Regions from separate parts of the Homo sapiens genome. Here region 2 is linked to region 1. The links come from fine-mapping of genetic effects on plasma protein levels. A gene starts in region 1. The other region holds a variant in brackets. All regions are shown on one strand. Distances are between the middles of the regions.

The links. A credible set is the group of variants that fine-mapping cannot tell apart. PIP is the chance, under the fine-mapping model, that this variant and not a neighbour inherited with it causes the effect. The UK Biobank Pharma Proteomics Project read protein levels with antibody pairs (Olink). The fine-mapping took linkage between variants from a reference panel, not from the people measured, so its PIPs are less certain.
Region 2: its variant is the best candidate, but not a certain one, in a credible set for the plasma level of the GFRA3 protein (UK Biobank, PIP 0.57).

What each region holds. Positions count from the first base shown.
Region 1 is chr5:138,269,817-138,278,120 of GRCh38, reverse strand. It overlaps GFRA3 (GDNF family receptor alpha 3), which reads left to right and starts at 3,500. Exons shown (of 8, transcript NM_001496.4): 1 at 3,500-3,787. The coding sequence starts at 3,697. RefSeq lists silencers at 3,408-3,497, 3,588-3,777.
Region 2 is chr5:138,496,197-138,504,529 of GRCh38, reverse strand. No RefSeq gene overlaps it. Among named protein-coding and RNA genes, the nearest start is that of EGR1, 35 kb to the right of the region's middle. The variant G/C (reference allele first, on the strand shown) is at 4,195.

The DNA of each region.
Region 1 (8,304 bases):
CATATCCAGAGCAGGAGCAAGAGAGGGAGGGAGTTATGGGAGGAGGTGCCACACACTTTTAAATGACTGGATCTCTTGTGAACTCAGTGACAGCTCACTTATCCCCAAGAGAATGGCCCAAGCCATTCATGAAGGATCCACCCCCATGATCCAGACACCTCCACCAGGCCCCACCTCCAACATTAGGGATTACATTTCATCATGAGATTTGGGTGGGGACAAATATCCAAACTATATTAAGGAGGAATATTTCCCTTTCTTTATCAGGAGTATAAAGTAGGAGGCATGGGGGATTCTCTCCCTGTTCTGTTCAGGCATAGGTTAAGGAAACACCAATTCCTTTAAACATATGCATCTGGAGTTGCCAATTCTGAGTATCACAGTTGTTAAAATATGACACAGTCCCTGCCCTCAAGAAATTGACAAGGTAGAAAAATAAAAAATGGCTCTTTTTGTTTCCATCCCTACAAGCACTCTGGTCTAGTAGTATATTCAGCAAAAGGAGCAAAAAGTGCCACTTCCAGCTCCAAATCAGCAGGTCGGGTGGTGGGGTCTGGCCAAGTTCACACACAGAATAATTAACTCCTGCATGCTACCTGGGATGATATTTATTCGATGCTTGCTATATGCCAGGTATAATGCTACACCTTTTTTTTTCTTTTCTTTTTTTTTTTTTGAGTCGGAGTCTCGCTCTACTGCCCAGGCTGGAGTGCAATAGCATGATCTTGGCTCACTGCAACCTCCGCCTCCTGGGTTCAAGCAATTCTTCTGCCCCACTGAGCCTCCCGAGTAGCTGGGAATACAGGCATGTGCCACCATGCCCGGCTAATCTTTGTAATTTTAGTAGAGATGGGGTTTCATCATATTGGCCAGGCTGGTCTTGAACTCCTGACCTCGTGATCCGCCCACCTTGGCCTCCCAAAGTGCTGGGATTACAGGCGTGAGCCACCGCGCCCAGCCTACACCTTCATTTAAATACTATACTCATTTAATCCTCACAATGTGAAATAGATACTATTATCCTTAATTTTACAGGTGAAGAAATGGAAGCACAGAAAAATTAAGTGACTTGCCCAAGGTCATCCAGCTAGTGTCGGCATTTGAATCTAGGCAGTCTGTAAAGCTTGTGGTCTTAACTATTTATTATACTGCTAACATCCTGGATTAGGATAGCAGCAGGAATTAAAGCTCAATGGAGAGAGAGAGGACTTGAGAGAAGGTAGAATCCATGTAATCTGACCATAAGAGGAGAAAATTGAGATTACAAGTGAAAGTGGAATAAGATACAGGGTCTTTGGGCATTTGAGTTGCAATCAGTGGATTGTAACACCCTCCCCGAGCAGGATTTGTGTCTTAATCATTTTGCACCTAGCATAAAGCTGGGCTCATAATCATTCTCAAAACACATTATTGAATTGAATGATGGATGAGTAACATCATCTCTGTAGAAAGGACTGGCTCATTTGTCATTGTCCACAAGGGGCAATGCTGCTTATCTAGCAGGTGTTGGCAGTCACAGAGGACATGGTTGGTGGAGAGGGTGTGCTGGAGGGCTGTCAATATTAGTCTTGGAGTCATATTTATTTGCAGAGCTTCTCCAATCCTCATTAAAGGCCCAATGATATGAGGCTCTCCACCCCTGTACCCAGACAGAAATATGCACCAGACACTTTATTTTCTCTCATGAAAAGGCTGGCCTGTTACAGGTGGGATTGGTCATTGCTCCCAGCCCGTCAGCTTGATACTGCATTCTTGGTCTATTCTGTGGGGACAGCCCTGGAATAGACACTGAGTATCTATCAGAGTAGGCACCCTGAGCAAACTTCCTTTCCCAAACCCTCTTCCTGCCCATAACATGATTTGGCTTGGGCTGGAGGAGGGGGAGGGCAGAGGAGACACCCCTTGACCACCTCACATCTTTGTTGGTTCATGGGTCTCAGCCCTTTCCTATCATCCCAAAGAGCCTGAAATTGTTACATTTTGCTTTATAAATTCCTTTCTTAAGTATTGTCAGTTTCAAAAAAAAAAACCCAAAAAACGATTGTCTGCCTGTAATAGCAGGTGTGAGAGAAAATGAGGTGCCTGGAGCATATTTCTCTCTGGCAATGGGGTAGAGGGCCTGACATCATGGGGCCTTTAATGGTAGCCCCCCAGCTTCATGTTCCCTCACCTTTCTGGAGAGGAGGGCTTGGGAAAGGCACATGGAGATAGGGTGGAGCTGGGGGAAAACAGGCCTTGTACAAAAGCTGAGTAGCCAGATGTTCACTTTTACAGCTCTTCTGTAAAACTGGCAGGGCAGATATAGATTAAAACGAAGGACAAACTCCATTTAAAGTGCATTACAGCTCAGGAACCAGCACCCCCTGGGCAGGAGAAGGGAGGGAAGGGCACAGAGGCCACATCAGTCTCCTTCCTTATCTAGGGCCACATGTCTCTCTCCTAGCTTTGCCAAGGGTGATTTACACCCCCAGCTGGAATGACTCTCTTTCTGGGCTGATTACATCGGCAAATGCCCCCCAGAGGCCACAGCAGGATGGCCATATTCAGAAGCAGCAGCCAATAAATCTCAGAGGTTTATATTGCGATTCTCAGTACTCCCTGCTGGCCCTCTGCCAGGCTGGCTGTGGAAGTAAGGAGGGGGTCAAGTTAGAGGGTTAGGGGATGAAACCCTCCACTTCCTTTCATCACCCTCTTCTCCTTCTCTCTTTCTATGCGCTGCTTAGTTCTCATTCTTCCAAGCCATTCTGCTTCTGGCTTTATCCTGGGATCTTGTGGGAATCAGGCCCAGGCCCAATAAATACCCTTATCCTTATGGGTAGACGTCCTGTGTTCTGGGCACAGATGTGTTTCTACCTAGTTGTTTAATCCTGATAGAGTAGCTTGCTCTCCGAAAGTCTCATCATGTGAAAAGGATGGGCTCCTAAATGGTCTCTCCAGGCACCTTCCTCAGTGAGCTTTGGTCCAAGGAAATCTCTGCTATTTAGTGGAGAGTTTAATCTTCCATCTTCCCTCACGACACCATCGGGGCTGAATTTTGGAATCTAATGCCCCAGGTCTGCTCCCCCAGCAAAGCCATTCCACCTGTCTGCGACCCATCTTTGCAGCATCTTGAGCTTAATAACCACCCAATCTTACCCTAGAAGACACTTAGGAGAGGAAAAAACGAGATCATAGATGTGCAAATTCTAAGAAAAATACTAGAAATGCAAGTGCCCTTGTGTTGGCTTGTTCAAGTTTTGTTACAAAATCTCTTTTGTGGTGGTGTCTGTTCTTTGATGTGTGGGTGAGTGGGATCCAGAAAGTGAGAAAGGGTGCTTTTCTTGGAGAAATATTTGGTTCTCCTAGATGGCGAGTTTCCAGCGGCAGCTTCCACAATGTCTTGCTAGTCGAACTTGTCAGACAGCAGGTGGGCCGCCTCGGAAAGAGCAACCTCTTCCGCACCAAGCCCGGCGGCTCCCGGGGCGCCGGCCCTCCCCCGCCCCCACCCCCGCGGTCCCTCGGACCAGCGCTGGAGGCGCGTGGTGTGGACGCGCGCTTCGGAGTTGGAGGGCGGCGCCCAGGACCCTGGTGGGAGAGTGTGTGCGTCGCGCTGGAGGGCGGGAGGCGGGGGCGGGAGGTGCCGGTCGAGGGAGCCCCGCTCTCAGAGCTCCAGGGGAGGAGCGAGGGGAGCGCGGAGCCCGGCGCCTACAGCTCGCCATGGTGCGCCCCCTGAACCCGCGACCGCTGCCGCCCGTAGTCCTGATGTTGCTGCTGCTGCTGCCGCCGTCGCCGCTGCCTCTCGCAGCCGGTGAGTGTCAGAGCGCGCACCGGCCGGGGGTACAGTGGGAGGGGGAGGTGAGGTGTAGGCGAGGCCCGGGGCACCTGTCCGGAGAGGGCGCAGCAGCCTCCCGGTGCATCCGAGCCGAACAAGGGGAACTGGAGCAGGAAGCCCAGGGTGCCTGCAAGGGGCTGGGGTCACACCTAACACAGTGTACGAACTGAGATAGACTGAGTGCCAGCAATGGCCTGGCCACCCAAGCATCTCCTCCTCGCCCCTTTTTCCCCCCTCTTCCCTCTTTTGAGGTAGGTCTACACAGTCACAGAACAACCCACAGCCAGGTCACTACCAAGACAGCGTCTCTAAGAGGCGGGGAGAATCAGATCAGAAACAGAGTGTCATTTGCTCCACGTGGGCTTTAACTCTTCCATCTGCTTTAAGGACTGAGGAAGAAACTAGGTACAGGTGAAGAAAAAGAAGTTCGTTAAAACTGACTTGTTTCATAACCTTCTACAATAGCAGGCCTTGCAAGCCGTCTAGCACAGTGGCTTGCCCCTTGGATAATAAATAATCCACAATAGATGTTTTGTAGATGTAGTTCAAGGCCTGGTTTTAGAACCAGGCCACTCCCCCAAGGAAGAACAGCCTGGGATCCGAGATCCCTGGAAGGCCCATGGCCTTCGTGAGTGGTATGGGTGTGTGGAATCTTATTATGCGGCTCCTGCCCAGAGACTGAATGGAGGGACTCCTGAGACAGAGAGACCACCACACTGCCCTGAGACCTCAGTCCACAACGCAGTGCTGTAGAAATGCTGCCTTGAGACAGATATGGAAGGAAGGAGGAAAAACCCTGGTCTGTCCACCTGCCAACATCAGTAAGTCAGGGCAGCAAGACATCACCAGTCTGATTTGACTGCCCAGGAAATTTCACTAATCCTAAAGGTTATGGCTGCATGTCAGGATCAGGGGAAAACATTAAACACCTTTCTCATTAAATGGTTTAATGAAGCAGTGTTGGTGACAGATCTATTTTCCACAGTAATACTTGACAGCAATGACATCTGGTTAAGTAGCCTCATTGAAAATCCATAAAACAGTCATCTAGGAGGTACCATGTAGAGCCAAGTGCTCTTCAAGAGCACAGACCAACAGAGGGCTTTGGGGGTGGAAAATATCATTGCTCAGGGCCTGCTAAAGCCAAGCATATAGGAGACCTCCGATTCATGGGGAAGTGGTGTCATGTACTGAAAATCATTCTGAAGTGGATAGGAGGCTGGAGTCCTGGGTTCTAGCCTTGACTCGGTCTTGACTTGCTACATCCCCTGGTGCACATTACTTTTCTTTGTTCATCCAACTATAAAATGGATACCTGGGTTGTGGGCCTCACTGATGAGAAACAAATGAGGATCTTGTGCCCTGAGGCATAGCCTGATCTGACCCATTCTGTAGCTACTCATTCTCTGATGAGCCAAGAAGCAGAAAACAAAGTTACAAAACCAGGTTGCTAACAAATCAATATGAAATAGACGTGGCAGTGGCTGTATAAATGAGGAGGTGGGGCAAGTAATAGAAAGTGGTATGGACTATAACAAGCTGGAAAAGGCATGACTTGTCAAAAGGGGGCAGTCATTACTCCACCCGTTACATGTGGGCCCGAGTGTTTCCATTTTTCAAGACAAATTGGAAATTAATAGTTTTATTTGAAATCTGATTTTTTTTTTGAGACAGGGTATCAATCTGTCACCCAGGCTGGAGTTCAGTGGTGTGATTCCAGTTCACTGCAGCCTCAACCTCCCATACTCAAGTAATCCTTCTGCCTCAGCCTCCCCAGTAGCTGGGACTGTAGTAGTGTGCCACCACACCTGGTTAATTTTTGTATTTTTTGTAGAGACGGGTTTTTGCCATCTCGGATGCCCAGGCTGATCTTGAATCCTGGGCTCAAACAGTCTGCCCACCTTGGCCTCCCAAAGTGCTGCAATTAAAGGTGTGCGCCACCGCACCCGGCCTAAAATCTGATTTTTAAATGTTGGCCACTAATTACAACTTTAAGAAAATACTGGCTGGGTGCAGTGGCTCACACCTGTAATCCCAGCACTTTGGGAGGCTGAGACGGGTAGATCACGAGGTCAGGAGATTGAGACCATCCTGGCTAACACAGTGAATCCCCGTCGCTACTAAAAAATAGAAAAAATTAGCCAGGCATGCTGGTGGGCGCCTGTAGTCCCAACTACCCGGGAGGCTGAGGCAGGAGAATGGCGTGAACCTGGGAGGTGGAGCTTGCAGTGAGCTGAGATCGCGCCACTGCACTCCAGCCTGGGTGACAGAGCGAGACTCCGTCTCAAAAAAAAAAAAAAGAAAAAGAAAATACTGTGAACGTGCAAAAAAAACCAACCAAACAAACAAATAAAACAACCAAACCACACACACACACACACACACACACACACACAAAAAAAAAAAAAAAAAAAAAACAGAAAAGAAAATACTGCCGGGAATGGTGGCTCACGCCTATAATCCCAGCATTTTGGGAGGCCAAGGTGGGTGGATTGCTTGAGCTCAAGAGTTCGAGACCAGCCCGGGCAACATGGTGAAAACCCATCTCTACAAAAAATACAAAATTAGCTGGGCGTGGTAGTGCATGCATGCAGTCCCAGCTACTTGGGAGGCTGAGGTGGGAGAATTCACCTGAGCCTGGGAGGTCGAGACTGTAGGCTGCAGTGAGTGGCGATTGTACCACTGCACTCCAGTCTGGGTGACAGAGATTAAAAGAAAGAAAAGAAAAGGAGAAAGGAGAAAGAAAAAGAAAGGAACGGAACTATGCTGACTAAAAAAGACACATTTGCACACTGGATCAAATTATGACCTTTGCCCTGGATCAAGTCCTGTGTTTCACAATCCAGGAAACACAGGTTCCACCTTGTTGAGATGAAATTTAACGTGGCCCCCAAGTTCTTTGTTGAGATGAATGCCCCTAAATCCATCACTGCTCAAACTTGGTAAAGTGTCAACTAAGAAATTGTTTTCTTTTGAAAATGTTTACAACTCAATAGTTAGTACAGTTAAATATTTATGGCCGGGCACAGTGGCTCATGCCTGTAATCCCAGCACTTTGTTGAGGCCGAGGCGGGCAGATCACCTGAGGTCGGGAGTTCAAGATCAGCCTGACCAACATCGAGAAATCGCATCTCTACTAAAAATACAAAATTAGCCAGGCATGGTGGGGCATACCTGTAATCCCAGCTAGTTGGGAGGCTGAGGCAGGAGAATCGCTTGAACCCGGGAGGCAGAGGTTGCAGTGAGCCGAGATCGCGCCACTGCACTCCAGCCTGGGTAACAAGAGCAAAACTCCACCTCAAAAAAAAAAAATTATTTTTAGTCCAGTTACAACAATAGAACTTGAATCTGCCACTTTTCTTTGTGTACTTACCACTTATTCAGTACCTACCGGAAGTAACATCGTAAACTTGTAGAAATTCCTCAATCTTTTTAAATCCATGTTCCCCTTTTGGTAAATATATAAAATCTCATACCTTCCTTAAATACTTTTTGAAATCTCAAAAGCTTTTTTTTTCATCTTGTACATGTAAAATTATCAAATATGCTTTTTGGAAATACATATTTCCTAGAGAAATTCTGATATACTTTTTCTTTTCCATAGGTTATTGGGGTACATACAGGTGGTGTTTGGTTACATAAGTAAGTTCTTTAGTGCTGATTTATGAGATTTTGGTGTACCCATCACCCAAGAAGTATATACTGCACCCTATTTGTAGTCTTTTATCCCTTCCCCTCCCCCACGCTTCCCCCCAAGTCCCCAAGTCCATTGTATCATTCTTATGCCTTTGTATCCTCATAGCTTAGCTCCCACATATCAGTGAGAATATACGATGTTTGGTTTTCCATTCCTGAGTTACTTCACTTAGAATAATAGTCTCCAATCTCATCTAGGTTGCTGCAAATGCTGTTAATTCATTCCTTTTTTTTTTTTTTTTGAGACGGAGTCTGGCTCTGTCGCCCGGGCTGGAGTGCAGTGGCGTGATCTCGGCTCACTGCAAGCTCCGCCTCCCGGGTTCGCGCCATTCTCCTGCCTCAGCCTCCGAGTAGCTGTACAGGTGCCTGCCAGCACACCTGGCTAACTTTTTTTTTTTTTTTTTTTTTGTATTTTTAGTGGAGACGGGGTTTCACTGTTTTAGCCAGGATGGTCTTGATCTCCTGACCTTGTGATCCGACTGTCTCAGCCTCTCAAAGTGCTGGGATTACCGGCGTGAGCCACCATGCCTGGCCAATTCATTCCTTTTTATGGCTGAGTAGTATTCTATTCTATCACAATTTCTGTTCCATTCGTTGATTGATGGGCATTTGGGTTGGTTCCATGATTCTGCAATTGCAAATTGTGCTGCTATAAACATGAGTGTGCAAGTATCTTTTTGGTATAATGACTTCTTTTCCTCTGGGTAGACACTCAGTAGTGGGACTGCTGGATCAAATGGTAGTTCTACTTTTTTTTTTTTTTTTTTTTGAGATGGAGTCTTGCTGTGTCACCACCA
Region 2 (8,333 bases), 230 kb before region 1:
AGGAGGCCAAGGCAGGTGGATCACCCGAGGTCAGGAGTTCAAGACCAGCCTGACCAACATGGTGAAACCCCGTCTCTACTGAAATTACAAAAACTAGCCGAACAGGTGGTGGGCGCCTGTAATCCCAGCTACTCAGGAGGCTGAGGCACAAGAATTGCTTGAACCTGGGAGGCAGAGGTTGCAGTGAGACGAGATGGCACCACTGCACTCCAGCCTGGGCGACAGAGAGACTGTCTCGAAAAAAAGAAAAAAAGGCTCTGGCTCTGCAGTTAACTGGGTTTGTGACTTCACAGTATCAGGCAGTCCCTGAATCTGAAGTGCCGTGCCAGCCAGCTTCCCAGGAAGCTATCAGGAGAGTGCAGTAGGAAGCAGGATCTCTGAGGTCTGAGGTAGAAATCCTGGCGCCACCTGAGAGGCTGGCAAATTATTCCATGTCTTTGAGTAGCAGTTTCACCACCTGTAATAAGGATTAAATGGAGTAAGGCACATGAAGGCACTTAGCAAGGACTGGGATGGCAGCTACTCATGGTTCTTCCTCTCCCAACCTTGGTCCTCTGGAAGTGGCCAGGGAAAGTTTGTGCTGGTGACCACAAGGTGGTGGTATAGAGTTAAGGATGCTGACTGGAAGAAATTTGCTTCATCTGAAGTAGGGGGGATTTCTGACAAGCATTAAGAGGTGCCTGGGACAACTTGCTTTGCCCTTAAATTTTAGGAAAGTGGAGAGGGCAGTTTAACAAAGGAGTAGGGATGAGTGAACGGAGAGGAGATCCCAGGAGTCTCAATCCAGCTCTGCCCAGTTTTCTTACTCCTTATTCTGGGCTTTGAGCTATCCGTCTGTGAAGTAACTATAGTCACTGACATTTGTTGAACAGTTATGTAATCCTTAGAAAAACGTAGTGAGGGAGATGCTGTTTATATCTTCCCATCCACGTTCTACTAAGTGGCAAAATCTGGGACTCAAAGTCAGGTCTGTTTGGTTCCAAAGCCAGTGCAAATGCAGGTCATCCCTACAGAGTGAAATAAAACAGCATGAAGAAGGGCTTCCTGGGGGGCCCTTGGCCCCAAGTAGGTGAGCAATCCTGGAAGTGATGAGAAGAAGGCAAAGCTGTACCTGGGAATGTCAAGCCCATTCTCAGAAAGGACTCTCAGAAAGAGTCTCATTCGACTCTAGTCCTTAGTCTACAGCCATACCTTTATATAGCTTTTCTCCACAATACCCAATACTTAGACTTCTTAAGGAATTATAATTTTAGCACCTAATTTTTTTTTTTTTTTTTGAGACAGGGTCTTACTCTGTCACCCAAGCTGGAATGCAGTGGTGCAGTCTTGGCTCACTACAGCCTCAACCTCCCAGGATCAAGCGATCCTCCCACCTCAGCCTCCCGAGTAGCTGGGACTGCAGGCACACACCACCACACCTGGCTAATTTTTGGTTTTTTGTTGTTTTTGTAGAGATGAGGTTTCGCCATGTTGCCCAGCCTGGGTGTTTTTTTTTTTTTGAGATGGAGTCTTGCTCTGTCACCCAGACTGGAGTGCAGGGGTGCGATCTCGGCTCACTGCAAGCTCTGCCTCCCAGGTTCATGCCATTCTCCTGCCTCAGCCTCCTGAGTAGCTGGGACCACAGACGCCAGCCACCACGCCCGGCTAATTTTTTGTTTTTGTTTTTTTAGTAGAGGCAGGGTTTCGCCGTGTTAGCCAGGATGGTGTTGATCTCCCGACCTTGTGATCCGCCCGCCTCAGCCTCCCAAAGTGCTGGGATTACAAGCGTGAGCCACTGTGCCCAGCCTCCCCAGGCTGGTCTTGAATTCCTGAGCTCAAGTGATTGGCCCGCCTCTGTCTCCCAAAGTGTTGGAATTCCAGGTGTGTGCCACTGTGCCGGGCCCCTTAATTTTAGCACTAGAAAGGGTCTTGCACCTTACCTATTCCAATCCCCTCACTAAAGACAGAAGAAAGCTGAGGCCAGAGAGGAATATAGTGACCTGTCAGGCTCATGCAGCAAATTAGCAGAGCCAACATGAACACTTGCTCCAACTCCAGATTCGGTGCTCTTAACAGCCGGATGATCTTGTTATTCTTCATCCAGGCCCTGTTCTCTCTAATGTTATAAATGAGAGAAGGGACAATTGGAGGGAGCACGTGGCCTGAAACCAAAGAGCTAGGAGAGGAAAGGTGGCCAACATCCAGATGGAGTTATGAAAGCTGTTTGAAGTCACTTCCCTGTGAGTCAAGGTTGGCTTGGGTGTGTGGATCAACTTGCTTCTTCAGCCCCCGGCCTTCCAAATTAGCCCCATCTAGCTCTCCCTGACTGCCACAGACTTCCAGCTCCTCCCACTCTGCTGAGATACTATACCTAGGCTTAGCCCCTTCTGCTTGCCTGTCCATCCCCACTCAAAGCTAGAGGGCAAACCCATTTCCAAGGAAGCCAGGAGAATAAGGAAGGAGGGTGGAAACTTGAGAGAAAGGCTCCGAGCAGGAATGGCAAGGATCTTCTGAGAGGCAAAGATGCAGAGATATTCCGATTCCTGGGAGAAGGCATGAGGAGAAATCAGGGCTTGATGATGCCAGGACCCTCTGCCCCATGTTGTATTACTGTCCAGACCCAAAGACATGCCCAGCCTAGGCTCTCTGGTGGGGAAAGGCAACATGAGCCAGCTGGGGTGGGCCTGGAGGGCCTGCAGAGGGGGACTCTTTGTAATAAGGCAGGATGTTGCCTGGGAGAGAGTTGCTCCTCCAGATAAAGACGAATTTCTGTGCTCAGGGCTAGAGGCCCTCCCTTGCACCCCTGTCGGGCTCTGATTCTGAAAGGTAACATGGAAGGAGTTCTACCCCAGTCTCCTCCAGCCTTCTCCACAGACGCACTCCACGGCCACCTCTATTCCTTAAATGAGACTTGGGTTAAGCCAGTCTCATTCCTTGACTCAGCAAGCATTTAGACATGTCCCGTGTACTAGGTCCCGTGCAAGATTCAGTGGCAAACAGTGCAGGTGCACACCCTGCCCTTCGGTGTTGAAGGTCCAGCAGTGGAGACTCTGAACAAGGAATGACAATGAGTGTTAAAGGACAAGGGGAGTGCAGGGTGGCTCCTTCCTCCTCTGGGGGTGCTAGGTCTATGTGGGGACCTGGGTTAGCTGGAGAGATGAGAGGGTGAGTTTGGAGAGGCACGTGGATCAGTCCTGACTGGATCCAAAGGCCAGGAAGACATTCAGATTTCAGGACACTGTTTTTTCTTTTCTTTTCTTTTCTTTTCTTTTTTCTTTTTCTTTCTTTCTTTTTTTTTTTTTTTTTTTTTTTTTTTTTTTTTTTTTTTGAGACAGAGTCTCTCTGTGTTGCCAGGCTGGAGTGCAGTGGCGTGCCCTCGGCTCACTGCAACCTCCACCTCCTGGGTTCAAGTGATTCTCCTGCCTCAGCCTCCCGAGTATCTGGGACTACAGGCGTGCGCCATCACACCTGGCTAATTTTTGTATTTTTAGTAGAGACAGGGTTTCACCATGTTGGCCAGAATGGTCTCGATCTCCTGACCTCGTGATCCGCCCGCCTTGGACTCCTAAAGTGCTGAGATTACAGGTGTGAGCCACCGTGCCCGGCTAGGACACTGGTTTTTTCATCCTGCTGTCATTTCTGTGGTTTGTTTATTAACAGCTTTATTGAGGTATAATTTACAAACTATAAAATTAACCCACTGTAGGTATAGTTTGGCTATTTATTTTTAAAAGTAAATGTGTGTAGGCCAGGCCTACACGCCTGGCCTCTAATATCTTGATCCCGGAAGGTGGAGGCTGCAGTGAGCCAAGATCCCACCACTGCACTCCAGCCTGGGTGACAGTGAGACTCTGTCTCAAAAAAAAAAAAAAAAAAGTAAATTTGTATAGTTATGTAAACATCCCACAACTCACAACTTAATGTTCAGCATCCCAAAAAGATTATTTGTGCTCTTTTGCAGTCAATCTCTGTTCCCACATCCAACCCTGGGCAACTACTGATCAATCTACTTGCTTTGTTTTTTTTTTATTTTTTATTTTTGGAGACAGAGCCTTGCTCTGTCGCCCAGGCTGGAGTGCAGTGGCGCGATCTCAGCTCACTGAAACCTCCGCCTCCCGGGTTCAAGCAATTCTTATGCCTCAGCCTCCTGAGTAACTAGGACTATAGGTGCCTGCCACCACGCCCAGCTAATTTTGCTATTTTTAGTAGAGACGA[G/C]GTTTCACCATGTTGGCCAGGCTGGTCTCAAACTCCTGGCCTCATGTTATCTGCCCACCTTGGCCTCCCAAAGTGCTGGGATTATAGGCATTAGCCACCACGCCCAGCTGCTACTGATCTGCTTTCTACCTCTACAGTTCTGGCCTTCCTAGAAATTTTTATATTAATGGAAAAGCACAACATGTAGTCTTTTATGTGAAGCTTCTTTCATTTAGATAAATTTTTGAGATACATCTATCCTATCTTTCTTTCTTTTTTTTTTTTTTGAGATGGAGTCTCACTCTGTCACCTAGGCTGGAGTGCAGTGGCTCAATAACAGCTCACTGCAGCCTTGATCTCCTGAGCTCAAGTGATTCTCTCGCCTCAGCCTCCCAAGTAGCTGGGATTACACCACCATGTCAGGCTATTTTTTGTATATATATATATTTTTTATAGAGATGGGGTCTCCTTATGTTGCTCAGGGTGGTCTTGAACTCCTAGCTCTAAGTGATCCTCCCGCCTCAGCCTCCCAGTGCTAGGATTACAGGTGTGAGTCACCATGCCCAGCCTGTTGCATGTTCATTTTTATTGTTGAGTAGTATGATACAATAAGAAATACATATACAGGTCTTTGCTCCACTCCTTTCCTGGCATGCAGCTCCTAAAACCCATGGAATCTCCAGAGTGATGAGAGTGTCTTTTCTATGCTAATATGATTACTGATGACTGGGGGCCCCTAGGTAGCTTCAGGATGGGGACTGGTCACCAGAACGACCAAAACGTGATTAGAGAGTAGAGCTTTTGGGCCAGGCGCGGTGCCTCATGCCTGTAATCCCAGCACTTTGGGAGGCCAAGGCGGGCAGATCATTTGAGGTTAGGAGTTCAAGACCAGCCTGACTAACATGGTGAAATCCTGTCTCTACTAAAAATACAAAAAAACATTAGCTGGGCCTGGTGGCATATGCCTGTAATCCCAGCTACTCAGGAGGCTGAGGCAGGAGAATCGCTTGAACCTGGGAGGCAGAAGCTGCAGTGAGCCAAGATCACTCCACTGCATTCCAGCCTGGGCAACAGAGCTAGACCTGTCTCCAAAAAAAAAAAAAAAAAAAAAAAAAAAAAAGTGCAGCTTTCAGCACCTGCCTCCCACCTCCAGAGAGCGGAAAGGGGCTGGAGGTTGACTTAATCACTGATGGCCAATGATTTTATCAATCATCCCTATATAATGAGACCTCCATAAAACCCCCTAAATGATGGGGTTCAGGAAGCTTCCAGGTTGGTGAACACATTGAAGTGCTGGGAGGGTAGCATGCCCAGAGAGGGGATGAAAGCTCTGCACCCATACCTTGCCCTATGCATCTGTTCTGTTGAGTTGTATCCTTTATAATAACCTACCATAATGTGTAGATTTTTCCTGAGTTCTGTGAGCTGTTCTAGCAAATTATCAAACTTGAAGAGGGGGTCATGGGAACCCCTTACAGCCAGTTAGTCAGAAGTACAGGTGGTAACTTGTGACTGGCATCTAATATTGGGGCAGTCTTATGGAACTGAACCCTTAATCTGTGGGGTCTGTTAACTTAGGGTATTAGTGTCAGAATTGAGTTGAATTGTAGGACACCAAGTTGTGTCTGGAGAGTTGGAGAATAGGTTGATGTGGGAACAAAACTCCACACATTTGGTGTCAGAAGTGTTGTGGGTAAAACAGCACAAAAGTAGTATTCCATTGTATGAATATACCGCATTTTGTTTATCTCTTCCACTGGTGGATATTTGGACGGTGTCCAGTTTTTAGCTGTTTGAATAATGCTGCTATGAACATTCACATACTAGTCTTTGTGTGAATATATGTTTTTTGTTTCTCGTGGGTTGATACTGTATATCTTTGGAGAAATGTCTATTCAACTCCTTCGCCCATCTTGAATTGGTTTATCTTGTTGAGTTATAACAGTTCTTTATACTCTAGATACCAAACCCTTATTAGATATATTATTTGCAAGTATTTTCACTTTCTTGATAATGTCTTCTGATGCACAAAACTAATTTTGGTGAAGTTCAATTTATCTGTTTTTCTGTTGTTGCCATATCTGTTGTTTGCCAAATCCAAGGTCATGATTTACCCATGTTTTCTTCTCTTAGAGTTTTAGCCCAGGCACAGTGGCTTCTGCCTATAATCCCAGCACATTGATAGGCCAAGGCAGGAAGATGGTTTGAAGCCAGGAGTTCAAGGCCAGCCTGGGCAACATAGCAAGACCTCAACTCTACAAAAAATTTAAAAATTAGCTGGGTGTGGTGGTGCACACCTGTAGTCATAGCTGCTTGGGAGGCTGAAGCAGGAGGATTGTTTGAGCCCATGAGTTTGAGGTTGCAATAAGCTATGACTGTGCCATCTCACTCCAGCATGGATGACAGAGCAAGACCCTATCTATTATGTGTCACTGGCCCATTTTGAGTTAGTTTTTGCATATGGTATGAGGTCAGGGGTCTGACATCATACTTTTGCATGTGAGTATCTAGTTGTTGTGGGGTTGGGCATTGTGGCTCACACCTGTAATCCCAACACATTGAGAGCCCAAGGCAAAAGGATCACTTGAGCCCAGGAGTTCAAGACCAGCCTGGACAACATAGGGAGACCCCATCTCTACAAAAAAGTTAGCTGGATGTGGTGGCACTCACCTGTGGTCCCAGCTACTGGGGAGGCTGTCGTGGGAAGATCACTTAAGCTTCGGAAGTCAAGGCTGCAGTGAGCCATGGTGCTGCCACTGCACTCCAGCCTGAGTGACAGAGCAAGACCCTGTCTCAAAAAAAAAAAAAAAAAAAAAAAAAAAAAAAAAAGTTGTGCAAGCACCATTTTGTTGATGAAACTATTATTTCCCCCATTTAATGCTCTTTGCTCCCTTGGAGAAAATCAGTTGACCATAGGTATATGGGATTATTTCTGAACTCTGAACTCTCTGAATTACTTCTGAACTCAGAAATAATCCCATATACCTATGGCCAACTGGGTATGGTATAATAATCCCATATACAACTGATATAGATATATAGGTTTGTATTTCTAACTTTATTATACCAGTACCACATTGTTTTGATTTATGTTACGTTGTAGTATGTTTATTTGTTTGATCTTTTTTTGAGACAGAGTCTCTTTCTGTTGCCCAGGCTGGCATACAGTGACAGGATCATGGCTCACTGCATACTCTACCTACTGGGCTCAAGCAAACCTCCCACCTCAGCCTCCTGAGTAGCCTGTACTATAGGTGTGTGCCACCATGCCCAGCTAATTTTTTTTTAATTTTTAATAGAGTTGGGGTCTCACTGTTGCCCAGACTGGTTTTGAACTCCTGGTCTCAAGTGATCCTCCTGCCTTGGCCCTGCAAAACACCAGGATTACAGGCATGAACCACCATGCCCCACCAACTTCTAATATTAAACATTAAAGTGAAGCTGGGTGCAGTGGCTTGTGCCTGTAATCCCAGCACTTTGGGAGGCTGAGGCAGGCAGATTGCTTGAGGTCAGGAGTTCGAGACCAGCCTGGCCAACATGGCGAAGCCCCTTCTCTACAAAAATACAAAAATTAGCCAGGCGTGGTGGCACACAGCTATAATCCCAGAAGCTGAGGCAGGAGAATCTCTTGAACCTGGAGGTGGAAGTTGCAGTGAGCTGAGACCACACCTGCACTCCAGCCTGGGTGACAGAGCAAGACTGTCTCAAAATGAAATAAATGTGAGCTGGCCGGGTGCAGTGGCTCATGCCTGTAATCCAAGCACTTGGGGAGGCCGAGGCGGGCAGATCACAAGGTCAAGAGATCGAGACCATTCTGCCCAACATGGTGAAACCCCGTCTCTACTAAAAATACAAAAAATTAGCCAGGCGTGGTGGCAGGCACCTGTAGTCCCAGCTACTCCAGAGGCTGAGGCAGGAGAATGGCATGAACCCAGGAGGCGGAGCTTGCAGTGAGCCGAGATCGTGCCACTGCACTCCAGCCTGGGTGACAGAGCAAGACTCCATCTCAAAAAATAAATAAATAAATAAATAAAATGTTAGCTATATACACATTTAAGAAAGATTCATAAGAACAAGGATTGGCCAGGCGTGGTGGCTTATGCCTGTAATCCCAGCACTTTGGGAGGCCGAGGCGGGTGGATCACCTGAGGTCGGGAGTT